Linked DNA regions of Homo sapiens: region 2 is linked to region 1. Evidence: fine-mapped expression QTL. Tissue or cell type: whole blood. Region 1 holds a variant in brackets; the other region holds the start of a gene. All regions are shown on one strand. Distances are between the middles of the regions.

Region 1 (8,104 bases):
GCCACCACGCCCAGCTAATTTTGTATTTTTAGTAGAGATGGGGTTTCTCCATGTTGGCCAGGCTGGTCTTGAACTCCTGACCACGAGGAGTGCCTGATCCACCCTAAGTGCTGGGATTACAGGCATGAGCCACTGTGCCCGGCCCAACACTTCCAAGTTTAGATAGACCGAGCTAGCATTTGCTGTCAGTGATTGGAATGAATAGTCAGAGTGAAAAAGTAAGCCAGCAACTCGTTTTGGAATGTGGGAATGTGAAAATGTAAAATTAAAGCGCTTACTGTTGTCTGGAGAAATGGAGGTAGCCCAGAAGAGCCTGGGTGTTGTGGTATTACTGAGCAAGAAAAGGATGGCCCATGACTGATTCTGAGACAGGAAACATAGATAAGTTATCAAAAATGAAATGCCAGCAGGAGAGCAAGGATGTAGATTGTAAAAAAAAGATGGCATTTCAATATGCCAAACCACAGATATGATCTAAGGCTAGATTTGCATGTAATAATGAAAGTGGCCACCGTGTGTAATGTGAGTCAGGCCCTTCTAAGCACTTTACTTGCGAAGTCCAAGCTATTACTACGTTCTTCTGAGGCAGAGCCCATTAAAGCTCCCACTTAGCCAGATATGTTCCTGAGTTGCCACTTCATGGTTAAGTGCTGCCCCAAGTACCCCAGGTGCCTGGCCACTGTCCTGGCAGTGGCCTTTGCCCCTTCTGGATACCCACCAGCCTCTCATGATTCACAAGGGGCCAGCAGGGCTTCTTCAGTTCCAGCTCTAGCCCTGAGGCTGGCATGTACTCTGATTGTTCAGTGCCTTGGTTTCTTCCTGCGGCTATAACAAAATACCTTAGTGTAATTTATAAAGAAAATGAACGTATTGTTCAGAGTTCTGGAGGCTGGGTCGTTTAAGATCAAGGTGCCAGCAGATCCCGTATTTGGTGAGGACTGTTCTCACCTTCCACGATGGCGCCTTCTTGCTATGTCCTCACGTGGTGGAAGGAACAAGGCAGTTCTCTTCAACCTCTTTTATAAGGGCACTCATCCCATTTATGAGGGTGGTGCTCTCATGACTTTATCACTCCCCCAAAGGCCCCACCTCTTAATACTGTCAAATTGGATATCAGGCTCCAGTAATACAAATTTTGGGGGGATACTGCCATTCAGATCATAGCACTACCCATGTCATGCTGGTGGTTACATATTTTTCAAAGATGCCTGGGTACTCTTTTTAATCAGAAACTGTGGTACAGAGCAAGAATTGAACCTGGGCAGGTGGGCTCCAGAGTTTGTACTGTCCCTTTGCCCTCAGGTTCAGAAACCCACATGAGAACTGTGCATTTCCTCTGGGGAGAGGGAGTTGGAACAAGAGATGCAGCTGAAGCTTTAGCAGAATTGGATGTTTACGGCCAGGTATAATCATCTGTAATCCCAGCACTTTGGGAGGCCGAGGCTGGAGGATTGCTTGAGCCCAGAAGTTCAAAACCAGCCTGGGCAACATAGCACCTGTCTCTACAAAAAAAAAAAAAAAAAAAAAAAATTTTTTTTTTGAGACAAGAGTCTTGCTCTGTCACCCAGGCTGGAGTGCAGTGACACAGTCTCGGCTCACTGCAACCTCCGCCTCCCGGATTCAAGCAATTGTCCTACCTCAGCCTCCCAAGTAGCTGGGATTATAGGCACCTGCCACAATGCCCAGCTAATTTTTTGTATTTTTAGTAGAGACAGGGTTTCGCTATGTTCAGGCCAGGCTGGTCTCGAACTCCTGACCTCAGGTAATCCACCTGCCTTGGCCTCCCAAAGTGCTGGGATTATAGGCTTGAGCCACCAAACCCAGCCAAAAAAATTTTTTAAAGAATTAAAAATAAAAAATAGCCAGGTGTGGTGGCACATGCAGCTACTCAGGAGGCTGAGGCAGGAGGATCTCTTGATCCTGGGAGGTGGAGGTTGCAGTGAGCTGTGATCACGCCACTGCACTGCAGCCTGGGTGACAGATTGAGACCCTGTCTTGAAAAAAAGAAAAGAATTGGATTTTTTTTCCTCACAAAAAAAATTTATAGCAAATGTTTAATATCAGCAGTGAGTACTGCTTTATGATAATTTTTTTAGAAACCTAAAGGCTTTGTGATATTCTTAACCATGCTTTTCCTGGTAGATCAGATTCTTTCCTCTCCATTTCTGCTGTACTGACTTCCCCAATGTGACTCATTTTTCAGAGGCACTCTGCTGTGTTGCTTTCTCTGAACTCAGGAAGTTTCGCATGTTGATGTTTAAACCCTCTGGGAAGTGGCCTGATGCAGCCTCAGCCTTGATTTCCACTGGCCTCCTCCAGTCAGGGCAGGCTTGTCACTGGCCTCCACTTCCAGCCCTTTCTTACCTTCAAGCATTTCTTCTGTGTTCCTGTGACTCCTCTGCTAGCGATTCCTTCCCTCTTTCTTTTCCAGCACTCCAGAATCCATGGTCCCTGATCCAAAACCTTTTCTGAAAAAGATTAGTTCATGTACCTTATATGTTGTACTGTGTCCCAGTTGGAGACCTGGGTGGTACCCCACAACCAGATCCATCAGTGATTCTGCAGGGAAATTTGTAAATTCTCACACTAAATGGGGTAAAATAGATTAAACCTCATATAAATTTCAGTCAGATTTTGCTATAAAGTAAAGAAAAAAATTTGGATTTTTAGACTTTTCTGGATTTCAAAATTGTGGGCCTGATTTTCACTTTTTAGGAAACTTACTTTATCCATGAAGCCTTCATTAGCAGTTTCTTCCACACCGACAGCTAAGTGTAGGAGACACTAAGATAGAAAAGTGAGCAAATATCTTTGCGCTCAGTGTTTTACCTTTCTTTAATCATTTGTGGCTTGAAGCCCTTAGCTGATGTTTATTATATGTTAGTGGAATTGAATTGAGTAGCCCAAGACTTGGCTACTGGTATTGAATGGACAGATCAGGGAATAGTGGCTTAGTGCCCAGGGACACTTGGAAAGTCTGCTGGAGCTGAGGTGGAGAAGCTTTCATCGCTGTTTGACTTGATTCTGGTTATTTTTATATTTGCCCGAGGTGCACTGGACCACATGGATTTTTGCTTCTGACTAGAATGCTTCTTTTCAGTGGAATATAATTTTTCTAGGGAGGTCCAGTGCTTACAGCATGGGCTGCTCTGGGGGGGACTTGTTCCTCTGTGTTTAATTGTAGTGTCTTCTTCAGCTGCAGGAAA[C/T]GCATTTTGTCAGGCAGCCAAGCTCCACATGCAGCTTCAGAGCAAACATGACTCTGCTACCAGCTTTGTGGATGCTGGAAATGCTTACAAAAAGGCAGATCCCCAAGGTAAGACAGCCAGGCATGTAGCATGCTATCTCTGTGTGTAACTAACCAGTCAGTACTTCCCTCAACGTTAAGGTCAGTGTTGGTGTGCTTTCAAGTCCTGGTAAAAAGGAATTTTTGTATTTTGGAATAATAGAGAATTTTGATAACCTTAGGGATTTTTCTTTTTTAATCATTTGGGGGCTTTTATGAGGAGAAATTATGTTAAATTTATACTGGCTGTTTACTTTATAGCATCATTTAATTAAACTCTTATTTATATTGCATTTTAGAGAATTTTTTGGAAATTACCTTTAATTTTATCTAAGACTTCTTATATCTTAATTTTGTGAAAATGTATATTGTTCATAAAAGGAAACTCTTATGTTCCCTTACTCCTAAATACCTAAGGAGTTTTCAGATCCAGTTAATGGGAGATTGTAATATTCAATCGTTAAAAAGTCTGATTCATACAGTATTCATTTGGTTTTTTAAAAAGTTTTTCAAAGTATTTGTTTTGAGGAAAGAATGCAATTGGATATTTAATGTGGTAAAATTTTGCAAAGATTATTTCTTTTTAGTTAGAAGAGTGTAATTAAAAGTATTAATTTCTTACCTTCCACACGCGTGCACAGCGGAAATTTTGTGTTTTTCCTTTTTCTTTTAGCAGTCCATTTTGTTTAACACACAGATCCCAAATTTTGAGAATAAATATGTCATAAAGAAATAGGGTATCTTCAATACCTTTGGTATAAGGGTTAATCACAGTTTATTTCCCAAAGTGACAAACTGGACACAGGTTAAATAAGCTGTTAGAGTGGTAACATTGTAATGCATCAGTACTTTAGAATATGGTGCAGGCATTAAAATCCCTGGTTTCAGAGAATCTTCAGTGACCTGGTAAATGTTTACATGTCAATTAAAGAAGCACATGAGACTGAATGTTGTATAATCTCATTTTCAGAAAAAAGTTTGTGCATATAGAAATGTGTCTAATAAACGCAAAAGGAAAGTACATCTGAGTACTAACAACGGATTTGAGCGGGATTATTGATAGATTATTTTTCTCTTTATATTCTGTATTTTAAAAGGTGTAACAGGGATCCACATTTTTTATGTAGTTTAGAGGGAAATTGTTTTAATTTTTGTTCATCTGCTTACCTTTCTAATTTTGTAGTCAGGCCTTTCTACTTTGCTGCCTCTTTAAACCAAACGTAATAAACTTGGAGCTGTCACTGTATGCCAGCATCATAAACACCATCATTTTATGATAGGGAAAATTTTTTGGCTCACTTGTTTAGAAAATTAGTAAAATTTATTAGCATTATTATTTATTAGATTTGTTTCTTCATTTTGTTAGTATGCTACAATTTAGCATCTTTGAACATTATACAGAATGTTGACTTTGCTTAAGGGTTGTTTGAATAGGCATTTCAAAGTGCTTTTGCTTTTGGCTGCATGGAGAGTAGAATCTATTGAGGTGATTGTTCTTGTGATGTGGTGCCATGTTCCAAAATTAATATATATGCATGGTATTAATGAGGAATATGTTTGCATTCATATTTTAGCAGATACAATTTATCAGTGTTGGTGACAACCTCTATGGTTTTATTTTCTTTATAATACAGTCTTTTGCCTGGATGGAGTCCTCACTTTAAGGTTAAGAGTAACTAAGCCAATGTTACTCCAGCTACAGTTCCCTAAATTATACTATAGCTGCTGGGAACAAAGCCATGCTGATGAATCTGGACTTGTGCATGATTTTTGTTTGCTTCTCATTAACCTGCCCACCCTCCACTCCAAAATTATACCTCATTAACGTTCTGATAACAGCCAGGAAGACAGCCTCACCTGAACCCTCTTTGACTGAATGGATTTTTCATTGTTTTTCTTAAATGCCTACGCTTCAGAGGCTATCAACTGCTTAAATGCAGCCATCGACATTTACACAGACATGGTAAGACATTGCATTGCTTGAGTGGCTGTGGGGTGGAGTCTTGAGATGGCTTAGAGTTCTATCTTTCTTTTTTATGTTCCCAAACTGGCATTCAGATAGGTAAAATCGGTGTGTGACTGTTTCTTGTTTTTTCCCCTAGGGAAGGTTTACAATTGCAGCCAAGCACCACATTACTATTGCAGAGATCTATGAGACTGAACTTGTAGACATTGAGAAGGTAAGCAGTGGGCACACTTCCTCAGATGTGAAGCAGGCAGATAAGCTGACTCAAAGAACTCTCCTCTCCTCAGTCTGAGAGTGATCGTAGGTGTAGAGTGGTCATAGATGGCCTTGCCTGGAGACTTTCTGGCAAAGTCTACTAGCTGGCTAAGTAGATGGGCTGTTTTCCTGGAGTGGACATCTAAGACATGAGAGCTGATTAAGATTTACAGAGATCACCTGTTGTTTCCACTCTCTCTGATTCATGTCAGAACATTAGCATTGCCAAAAGAACCTTCAGCTGTATTGCTTAGTACTCTAAGGCCCAGTGAAGAAAGTGTAAGAGGTCACCTCTGTACACTCAGTCAGCATCACAGCTTTAAGTATCTGTGTGCCAGTGACTCAGAAATCTGACTGCAGCCTAGACCTCTCTCCAAATGCTAGATTACTGTATCCACCTGCCTGCTGACCTCTCCACTTTGTCCAGCAGTCATCTCTAACCCAACATGTCTGGGACTGGATTCTCAGATGTCCCCAACCCAGTGTTCCCCGCTAAACTACAGGCTTCCTTGCCTTTTCTCTTTCTCTACAACCTGTGAGCAATTTTTGTGAGCGGTGTCCTTCCTGCTCCCAAGTCTTGGCACAACTCACTACCTTGTCTCTCAGCTCACACTTGATCGCTGCAGGATCCTTCAAACCGGTCTCCCTGCTTTTGCTCTCCCTACCTTGCCAACCCCACATCCCCATGCCACAGAGTAGCCAGAGTGAGCCTTCTAAGCATTGCATCATACTCTGTTTCTCTACTGCTGACAGTCATTAGACCCCTTTCACTAAGAGGAACAGCTGGAGCTGTGCAGAGCCTTCATGGGTCCACTGAATTGCTTCCTCCCAGCCCCACACTCCCCATGCATCTGTGTGGCCTGGCCTCTCCTCTTTTCTGTTATTCTCCTCCTCTTGCATACCCTGCATGGCCATCCTGGCCTCCTTGCTGTTCCGCACACATGCCAGATGAGCGCTCCTGCCTCAGGACCTTTGTATCCACGATTTCCTCTGTCTGCAAAGCTCTTCCCCAGATGTCCACGTGGCTGACTCCTCACATCTTTCAAGTCCACATGGCTAACTTCCCCGTGCCCTTCCATTTTTGCTCATTTATTACCTATTTCCATGATTAACTATTATGACCCCCTAGTTAATTTAGCCCCCCAGGAAGACATAGTAGATCCCCACACACCTCACTTAACTTCTTGTATTGCTGAGCAGATGTCTCCTTACAATATGCCCTCTCATATGCTTGCTCATCATTCTCATTTTGGTTGTCTCTCTCCCTCCGCCAGATTGGGCACACGTGTCAGCAGAGAGCTTTGTCTCTGCTTTGCTGATGTGTCCCAAGAGCCCAGAACTCTGGGACCTAGTGGGGTCTAAATATTTGCTAAATAAACAAATGCTACCCCTACCTCCACCATACCAAATGGAGTCTTCCTGGTCTGGGGAAGGATCTGCTAGGCGTTACTGAAATTGGACTGGCATTGTTAACGTTCACTCTTTTGACTGTGTGACCTCCACCTGTTGGTTATTCAGCACAAAATTTGCTCATATTTGTTACATAAAATTTATTATTTGACCTTTTTTTTTTATAATTGCCATACTTTTCTGAGGATACTCCCTGATCTTGATCAAGTCAGGGCCACCCTGTGCATTGACGTGTGTGTGAGCCTTCTCTTTGGAAGGTTATCTGTGGATCCTGGAGGCAGGTGATGGAGCTGGATCTGAACCTCCTTTGTTCCCTGGTGTGGAATTGATGATGGAATGGGAGGGAGATGGATCTGGTGTGGCTGGGGTATTTATTTGGTCAGGGTGTCTGGGATGGCCACAGTATCTTTATTTAGGTTTGAGTGAGTCTTGCGGGGATGAGCACTGTGCGCAGAGCATCTTTGCCAGCAGAGGCTCCTGTTCCAGCTTCCTCTTTCACAGTGGTCAGAAGGGCACTCTGGGGCAGGAGCCTGCAGTGCTGTGTCATTTCTGCTGCCCAGGCATGGTCTCCAACACATGGGTCTCCATAAACTTGAGAGCAGATAAAATGAAATGTGACATACTCTTTTTTTCTCTTGAAAAAAAAAAGGCCAGGTACAGTGGCTGATGCCTATAATCCTACCACTTTGGGAGGCCAAGGCAGGAGGATCACTTGAGCCCAGGAGTTCAAGACCAGCCTGGGCAACATGAGAAATCCCCATCTCTACTAAAAATATAAAAAAAAAAACTATCCAGGAATGGTGGCGTGTGCCTCATTCTGTTCCACAGGCTGGACAGGTTGGAGTGGCATGAACACAGCTCACTGTAGCCTCAGCCTCCTGGGCTCAAGCGATCCTCCCACCTCAGCCTTCCAAGTAGCTGAGACTACAGGCATGTGCCACCATGCCCGGCTAATTTTTTAATTTTTCATACAAATGAGGTCTTTTCATGTTGCCCAGGCTGGTCTCAAACTCCTGGACTCAAGCAGTCCTCCCATCTTGGCCTCCCAAATGCTGAGATTACAGTCATGGACCATCATGCCTGACCTTCACGGAATACTGAATTTTAAAATGCAGCTATAAAAGAACAGGTGTACTATGGTTCTCTTTTTGCAAATACTTAGTCACACACAGAAATAGTCTGGAAGAAAA
Region 2 (8,104 bases), 25 kb before region 1:
CATTCCTTTAACGATTTTGGGTGAAGAGCCTCCTGAAATGGACTTCTTCCTTCCCTGCCTTCTGAAGCAGAACACTCTGCTTTAGATGGTTTGACCTTGTCCGATGACTCTGAGCCACGCTTAGCATTTCAGGCAGAACGAAGGCTGAGATGTCATCAGAGAAGGCCACTGCAGACCTGGGCAGGGACCGTTGGGCCATGCCATGCAGGGCCATGTGAGCTGAAGGCTGTCCCCCAACGCCAGCGTAGGGGCTCCAGCTTCCCAACTTTGTCAATGCAACCAGAGTGGACCAGGGTGAGCACGGACTCCCTCTAACCTAGCTGTCGTGGTGTGAAAACATCTGCAAATCCTCAGAGGCCCTCCCATCAGGAGATGTCGTCTCATTTCCCTCCCCTTTAATGTGGGTGAGCCTTCTTGCTTTGCTTCAGTGAAGCAGCAGTGATGTCCCATAATTTTCCATACTGGATCTTTGCCTGGTGCTTTCTCCCCTTCTGTGAACACACACAGATGGCTACACCCTTTCCCCATATCGATTCTGTTCTTTTCTGACTCTGGCTTTCTTAGTATTGGGGTTCTCAAGTAGCTTCAGCCCTGTCTTGATGGATCATCTTTCGGGGTATGTGCTGATTCAGTCTGAGTGTCCAGGTGTCCACCTCCATCTTCTCACAGGGAAAAGCCAGCAGTACTGTTGGCTCTGCCTTGTTCAGGCTACGCTCCTTTCCTGCTCTGCCTTCTCAGAAACTCCCTGAAGCCTTTTTCTTCTTTTCTTACAAGTGTCCAGAACTTCTGAAAAGCAAAGCACATAGAGGCTAGTGCCATCCACTAGGACTTGTGGAATGATAAAATTGTTCTCTGTCTGTGCAGTCCATATAGTAGTGTAGGGGGGCATCTCAGGCTCCTGGTGGAGTCTGAAAATTAAACTTACATAAGACAAGTTAATAGCAGGAAAGCACACAGGTGTATTTGATACAAGTTTTACATGGCATGGGAGGCCTCATAAGGAAATGAAAACCCAAAGAGGCAGTTAGAGTGTGTTACTTATTTACTGAATTGGACAAAGAATAGTAAACTGAAAATGTGATGAGGCAGAGGGGCTTGGGCTAGGGTAGTTAATTGGATAGAAAAGTGACTAAGAAGATAAGGGTTAGTTTAATAGGGTTTGTACAGAATTCTCTTAGCCTCAACTTCCTGTCTTTGATGATAAGAATGTTGCTTTAGTTCTAGTATAAGAGGGACATCTTTCATATGGGAATTTCATCTCTTGCCTTTAAATAAACAAGAGGTTGGGGCCAGGCGCGGTGGCTCACGCCTGTAATCCCAGCACTTTGGGAGGCCGAGGCTGGTGGATCACGAGGTCAGGAGATCGAGACCATGCTGGCTAACACAGTGAAACCCCGTCTCTACTAAAAATCCAAAAAATTAGCCGGGTGTGGTGGTGGGTGCCTGTAGTCCCAGCTACTTGGGAGGCTGAGGCAGGAGAATGGCGTGAACCTGGGAGGCGGAACTTGCAGTGAGCCACTGCACTCTGGCCTGGGCAACAGAGTGAAACTCTGTCTCAAAAAAAAAAAAAAAAGAAAGAAAGAAACAAGAGGTCAAAGTGTCCAGTGTGTATTCTGTATGCAAAAAAGAAAAGAAAAAGTCAAAATAATCTTCTTGCACCTGTCGTTTTTTGGGTGTCTAACTTTTTTTTTTTTTTTTGAGCAGAGTCTCACTCACTCTGTCGCCCAGGCTGGAGTGTAATGGTGCAATCTCGGCTCACTGCAACCTCTGTTCCACCTCTCAGGTTCAAGTGATTCTCCTGCCTCAGCCTCCTGAGTAGCTGGGATTACAGGCATGCACCACGACACCTAACTAATTTTTGTATTTTTTGTAAATTTTGTATTTTTGGTAGAGATGGGGTTTTACTGTGTTGGCCAGGTTGGTCTTGAACTACTCACCTCAAGTGATCCGCTTGCCTTGGCCTCCCAAAGTGCTGGGATTACAGGCGTGAGCCACCGCCCTCAAGTATCTAACTTAGTCAATCCACCAGGTGTCTAACTTAGTCAATCCACCAGGATGCTATATTTATAACTCTTTCAGTAGCCACTGGCTATGTGTGGCTATTGAGCACTTGAAATACGGCTAGTACAGCCAAGAAATGGAACTTTACATTTTATTTAATATTATTTAACTTGAATGTAAATAGCCACCAGTGGTGAGTGGCTCCATCCTGGGCAGCGCAGGTGTGGGCAGTGGGTCCTTTGGCTCTTCTCCAAGATGACTTCTATTCTTCTCCTGATCCACACCAGGGGTGCTTCTCCTTTCCTTTTCCTTCTTGTTTCAAGGATTCCTCAGCTGTCTCTCTAGTCAGGCCTTATTCTGTGAGGTTCATCTCTCTGCCCTGCCTCCTTTCCTCCCCCAGCCTTTGGGAGAATAAAACACTAGCTCTACCCAGTAATTAAGGTTTGAAGGTTTTCTCCCACTTTGGTGTGGACTGGCAGAACGGTGGGAGTGCCCACAAATTTCCTGTGACAAAGAAGAGAATGAAGGAAATTACTAGAAACCACCAAAAATGTCTCTCTTAATTGCAAGTGCTAGCTTCGGGGAGGCAGTCTGTTCCAGCTCCTTTTCAACTGACTACAGATATGAGAATCTAGAACTGTGTGCTTTAGGATAGGGATGGAGAGTTCTTTTCAAAATGTGCATTTTCTAGACCCCAGCTGCAAGAGACCTTGATACCAAAACCCAGTGGCCTAGGAATCAGTATTTCTTAAATATCCATTAGAGCTTCTGCATCGAACCACGTTAGGGAACAACTGATTTAATCAACACACTGATTTACTTAGGAGCTTTTGACTTAGCCTCACTCCATTAAGCCCCCATAGACTGCTCTGCTTTCCAAATGCTTATGTTCACTTTTTACAGTTTTTCTCTGGTCTCCCCTGCATTTACGGTCACCTCCAATTTCCCGCCTCCTTCTCTCTCCAAAAACACACAGCTCAGCTTTTCAAAGTTAGAATAATGCATGTAGTAATCGTAAATAAACTGCACGAAGAGCTGAGATTTCTTTCTATCTCTACGGAGTCCTGAAATGTATGAACTCTGTGACATGTGCTTTAGTCAACTTTCTTTCTAGGAGTTTGGCCCCTCTTGCCTTGCCCTCTACAGACAGTCTTCATTTTCTAAAATTTTGCATGCCAGTGCCCAGAGTGTATTTATTAACAGTTTGAAACTGTCATAAATCTCACTTGGCAGTGATTTTCTTATTAGTTTCAGCATCTCTGCCTTAGCACTGCCAAGCTTGAATGGTCTAGACATTGTCTTCAAAAATAACTCCCTCTGGGACAGGCCTGAAAGTCTCTGGCACAGGATCCCATCTATCTATGGATACTTCTCCTAGGAGATTAGAAGTCTTCCTGGCAGGCAAACATTTTGTCCCTGGAGATCCATCCACTATGGCCAGTATTATGTAAAGGATAAGAGTTCAATGGTTCACATCCATTGAATATAATTCAGTCAACAAAAGAGTGGATTATGCATATATTGCATATATGCAACTCATTTATAACCAAGGAAGAGAGGACCAACAGAAAGTTACAGTTTGGGGAGATTTAAAAATAACTGAACTTATATTGGGGACGTCTTGCTCTTGGAGATAAAAATGGCTCTTATTGCCAGCTGTTGCTCGTTTTTTGGTGGGCGGTATCAAGCATGTGATGCTTTGGTGGCTACACCAGATTCTCTTTTGCAGAACTTGCATGAAGGGTGTGGGTTCCATCCAATCTGTTATCCCCTGTTCCTTCATCCATCCCATTGCCATGCGAGTCTTACTGAGGAGGTGATCTTTACTAGAGGCCACGGATCATTTTTCCATTTCTGCATACATACAAAATTAAAGTTCACCTTGGCCCAGGACCCCTTTGGGGGGGTCACGCCCCCTGCGCCGACGTCCTGGGAGCTAGCGGTGCGCAAGCTCGGCTCACACACACCCCGCCCCGGGGCCTCCTGGGAACTGTAGTAGGCGGCTCGCGAATCCCCGCCGCCATGACAGGACCCGGACTACAGCTCCCGAAAGGCCTCGCGCGTCGCGCCTGCGCCTGCGTCCCTGCGGCCGCCAGAGGGAGGGTTAAGGCGCCTGGGCGCACAGCGAGCCGGCTGAGGGGGCTGTGGCGGCCGCGGCGGGCGACATGGACAACGCGGGGAAGGAGCGTGAGGCAGTACAGCTGATGGCGGAGGCCGAGAAGCGAGTCAAGGCCTCCCACTCCTTCCTCCGAGGGCTGTTTGGGTGAGCGCCAGACCGTGCGTGCCCTGGGGGGGGGGGGTCTCCGTACTTGGCCCCCTTCCTTTCAGGCTGACCCCCCGAGTCCCCCACGCAACCTCTGGGGCCCTCAGACCACGTCTAGGGGCCCTCAGCCTGCAGGCGCCCTCCAGAAATCCTGTAGGGTCCCCCAGCGCCCCCTGGAGCCCCCAGGACGCCCAGGGGCCCTCAGTCCGCACGCGCCCTCCAGAGACCCCACAGGCCCCCCCAGGGTCCCTGGAAACCCCGCATCCTCCCAGGGGCTCTCAGCCCCCACGCGCACTTTAGAGACCCCCTAGGGCCGGCAGAACTCCCCAGGGTTCCTCAGCCCCCACACGCTCTCCGGATCCCCTAACACGCCCCCTTAGAATCCCCAGAGTCTCACAGGGACCCTCAGCCCCCACGCGCCTTTCAGAGAACCCCTAGGACCCCCAGAGCTCCCCAAGCGCCCCACGAAGCCCCTAGAACACTCTGGGGGGGGGGCTGTCAGCCTCACGCGCCCTCTGGAGACCCCAGATCGCCCCCCTCGCCCTGGCCCGGGTTGGTGCGGGGGTCCCACGACCTAGAAGGTCAGCGGCTCCCTGAGGCCCGCGGGCGCGGTAGCTCGGGGCGCGCGTGGGGCCCCCTTCTCAGTGCGTAGCGAGTCGTATTGGTGCATTTCGCCACGCTGAAGCCCGTATCGCTCCTGAGACCGGTCCGGGTGAGGCGCGCCGGGGTGGAGCCGGAGGGGTGGGTGCGGGGGCCGCCCCCGGCGCCTGGAACGCGCACCTGGGGGCGTCCCGCCTGCAGGTGGGCCCCGCCGGGGAGGGGGCGGTCCGGCGAGGGATCCAGAGCTGGTGTGCTTGTTGGCCTCTCTCCAGGGGCCTTGCGCCGAGTACACCTTTAGTAAATACTTGACTAATGAACGAATATATTTTCTCAGCATAGTATTTTTCCTTCTCCGGAGATTGATTGATAGCCAGAGCCTCCTGTTTGATTAACGGTAACGCTGCTGCTGTTTAAGTCAGGCGTCCTTTGGGAATCCCTTTAATTTCCTGTAATTCTTCCGTGCTCTCCTAAGGAGGATTTTAAATTCCAACCTCTCAAAAAGCAGAGCCCGCACTGACAGCCCGGAAGAATTCTGGGCTGTTGAATATGTGAATGATTCAGCTGTTTAGGATGAGAAAGGCAGAAATTTTGTGTGTGCCTGTTTCGTTGTTTTCTTTTGAAAGTGAAAGATCCTTTGCTGTTACCAAGAGCAGATACTTAACCCATTGCATGACTAGACACGATTTTATTTCTGTACACATTCAGTTCAGACTCTATTTCAGAAGACAGACATAATGGGCTCTTAGCTTGTTTTGCCAACTTCATTCTTTTGGCTATAAATTATAATACTTTACCGCTATTGATACGTCTTTAGGAAATGCTTAAGGACAAGTTGCATGCAGTACGCATAACTGCAGAAATGCATAAAGGCTGCAAAAATGCAAGAAGATAAGGGTCCCTGTCCTCAGGAACCTCTCAGAGGACGTTTATCACAGCTGGTTTCTAAATTTCTCATGTGATGTGTAGGAGATATAGCTATGAATTATGTTTTGTTTTGCATTTAAAAGTTATGACAGTACCATCAAGTGCTAGCGCCACACTAACTCCTTTTAAATGTTTTGATTCACAAAACATTTAAAATTCACTCTAATAAAATTTAATGTCATAGTACCTCATGCCAGGAGGTTATTTTAATGTTACAACATTATTTCAAGTCAGGAAGTGCTTCCCTGTGGGAGAGTCTGTAACTGGCAGAGGAAAAAGCTTGACAGCACTTGGTGCTTGTCTCAGGAGAACACTCCTTTTGGGAAAGAGGTTTTCGATGTTTTTAGGAAACTAGGCCAAATCTTGAGCTTATAATCCTTAAAGGATTTTGAAAAGCCTTTGTTTTTAAAGAAACATCTCCCTTTTAAATGTTGCTACCTATGTTATTGACAGGACATATAAGAAGACGAATCTTCACCATTCACACTCAGTTACACAAAAGTTAATGCATCTTAGTTCTTACCTGGGTACAACAGGTTGGTTTATTATCTAGCTTTGGGACCTAGGGCAAGTTACTTAGCCTCTCTGTGCTTCAGTTTCCAGTGTATAAAACGGAGACAATAATAGTATATCTCAAAATTTATGGGAGTTCAGTGAGGTTATGTTTATAAAACATTTGGAACCATGGATGTTGGAGACAGTGACCATGAGATATTAATTAGCATATTCATCAAAATTATCAGCTCCAGTTATTTATCAAAGAAGCAGTAGGCCAAACAGATAACTTTTCCAGAATTTCAGAGCCGTAGACTGCATCATTGATTTTTTTTTTTTGAGACGGAGTCTCACACTGTCACCCGGGCTGGATTGCAGTGGCGGGATGTCAACTAACTGCAACCTCCGCCTCCCAGGTTCAAGCGATTCTCCTGCCTCAGTCTCCTGAGTAGCTGGGATTACAGCCACCCGCCACCACGCCCGGCTAATTTTTTTTTTTTTTTTGTATTTTTAGTAGAGACGGGGTTTCACTGTGTTGGCCAGGCTGGTCTCGAATGCCTGACCTCGTGATCCACCTGCCTTGGCCTCCCAAAGTGCTGGGATTACAGACGTGAGCCAGCACGCCCAGCCTCATTGATCTTTTAATGAAATAAAATATCTGAAAGAGCTTTAACCATTAATGTACCATGCAAGTGTGATTTATACTTTGAAGACTGTTATTTCCAGTAATACTTGCTCCAGGAAAGCTTGCAGGAAGAAGAGTACTTAGAATTTTAGGAGTTTAGTAATATTGTATAATTACTGAAGCCAGAAAACAGACGTAGTGTTCCTGTGTCAGTAGGACAATTAAGATTCTGTATCAATTTTAGATGTTTAGAATCCTACCTTATAGATGGCATGTATCATCACCTTTCTAGACTGGAATACATGTTATTCCACCCTGCCCCTGCCTTCTTAGCTATAGAATGTCACCATTTTCATTCCTAAAGGTCTGCATGTAATCCTTTATTTAAAACGCAGAGTAATCCATCTCTATGTCAGACTCCAGAATTAATGTAATACAAAATTAATAAAACACACATACTGACTTGAATATCATCAGAGCTCATATATTTAAGAGCTGACTAGCTGGTGCTTTAAAGAGGATAAGCCATCTGTTTTCAGGTTGTGGCAGTCATTAAAAGCTGCTTGGCATATTGCAGATATTTCACATCACAGACATTCTGAATGCTCTATCTGCAGATTAAAGCCTGTCATGAGTTCTCTAGTGTTTACCACTCACAGTGGTTTTGTGGCAATACTGTATTCTTAGTAGTATTCTATAGCTTTTGTTTCTTGCTTTCAGTAAAATTAGATGAAAATATGCATATGTATTTATGAGAACATGTCAGTCAAATATTTCTTCTCTGTGTAAGGCACAAATCCTCTGCCTTATCTGCTTGATAGGTAAGGTATCAATATTCCTTTCCCATCCCCACCTTCCTCCCCAGGAAAAGAGCTGACAAGGGATGCAAACATTGCAGGAAACCACTGTTGTGGTGGTTTGTGTTTCTGCTTAATTGCCCGTTAAGCAGTAATGTGCTTTTGTAGTTGTGGAATTAAAACTTTTTCTCAAGTTTGTAGTATAGTACGTTTAGTAAAACTACTTCCAAAGGAGTTGTCTTGTCCTTTAGTTTGTTGCCAGGGATGAGCTATGGAATTTTGTAGTTAATTTCAAATTCCAGTTTATAATGTTAATGAACTACTGGTATGATTTTAAATCGGCCTGAGTCTGACATTAAGATAGTTTTGAATTGGAAAAGCCTCTTATAATACTATCCC

Evidence for each region. PIP is the estimated chance that this variant, and not a neighbour inherited with it, causes the effect.
Region 2: NAPB starts here. The variant in region 1 is fine-mapped to the expression of NAPB in whole blood (INTERVAL, PIP 0.97).

Annotation. Positions count from the first base shown.
Region 1 is chr20:23,392,281-23,400,384 of GRCh38, reverse strand. It overlaps NAPB (NSF attachment protein beta), which reads left to right. Exons shown (of 11, transcript NM_022080.3): 3 at 3,197-3,313; 4 at 5,200-5,246; 5 at 5,386-5,463. Among named protein-coding and RNA genes, the nearest start is that of NAPB, 25 kb to the left of the region's middle. The variant C/T (reference allele first, on the strand shown) is at 3,207.
Region 2 is chr20:23,417,465-23,425,568 of GRCh38, reverse strand. It overlaps NAPB (NSF attachment protein beta), which reads left to right and starts at 4,081. Exons shown (of 11, transcript NM_022080.3): 1 at 4,081-4,264. The coding sequence starts at 4,167. RefSeq lists an enhancer at 3,703-3,892 and silencers at 4,143-4,232, 4,863-5,092.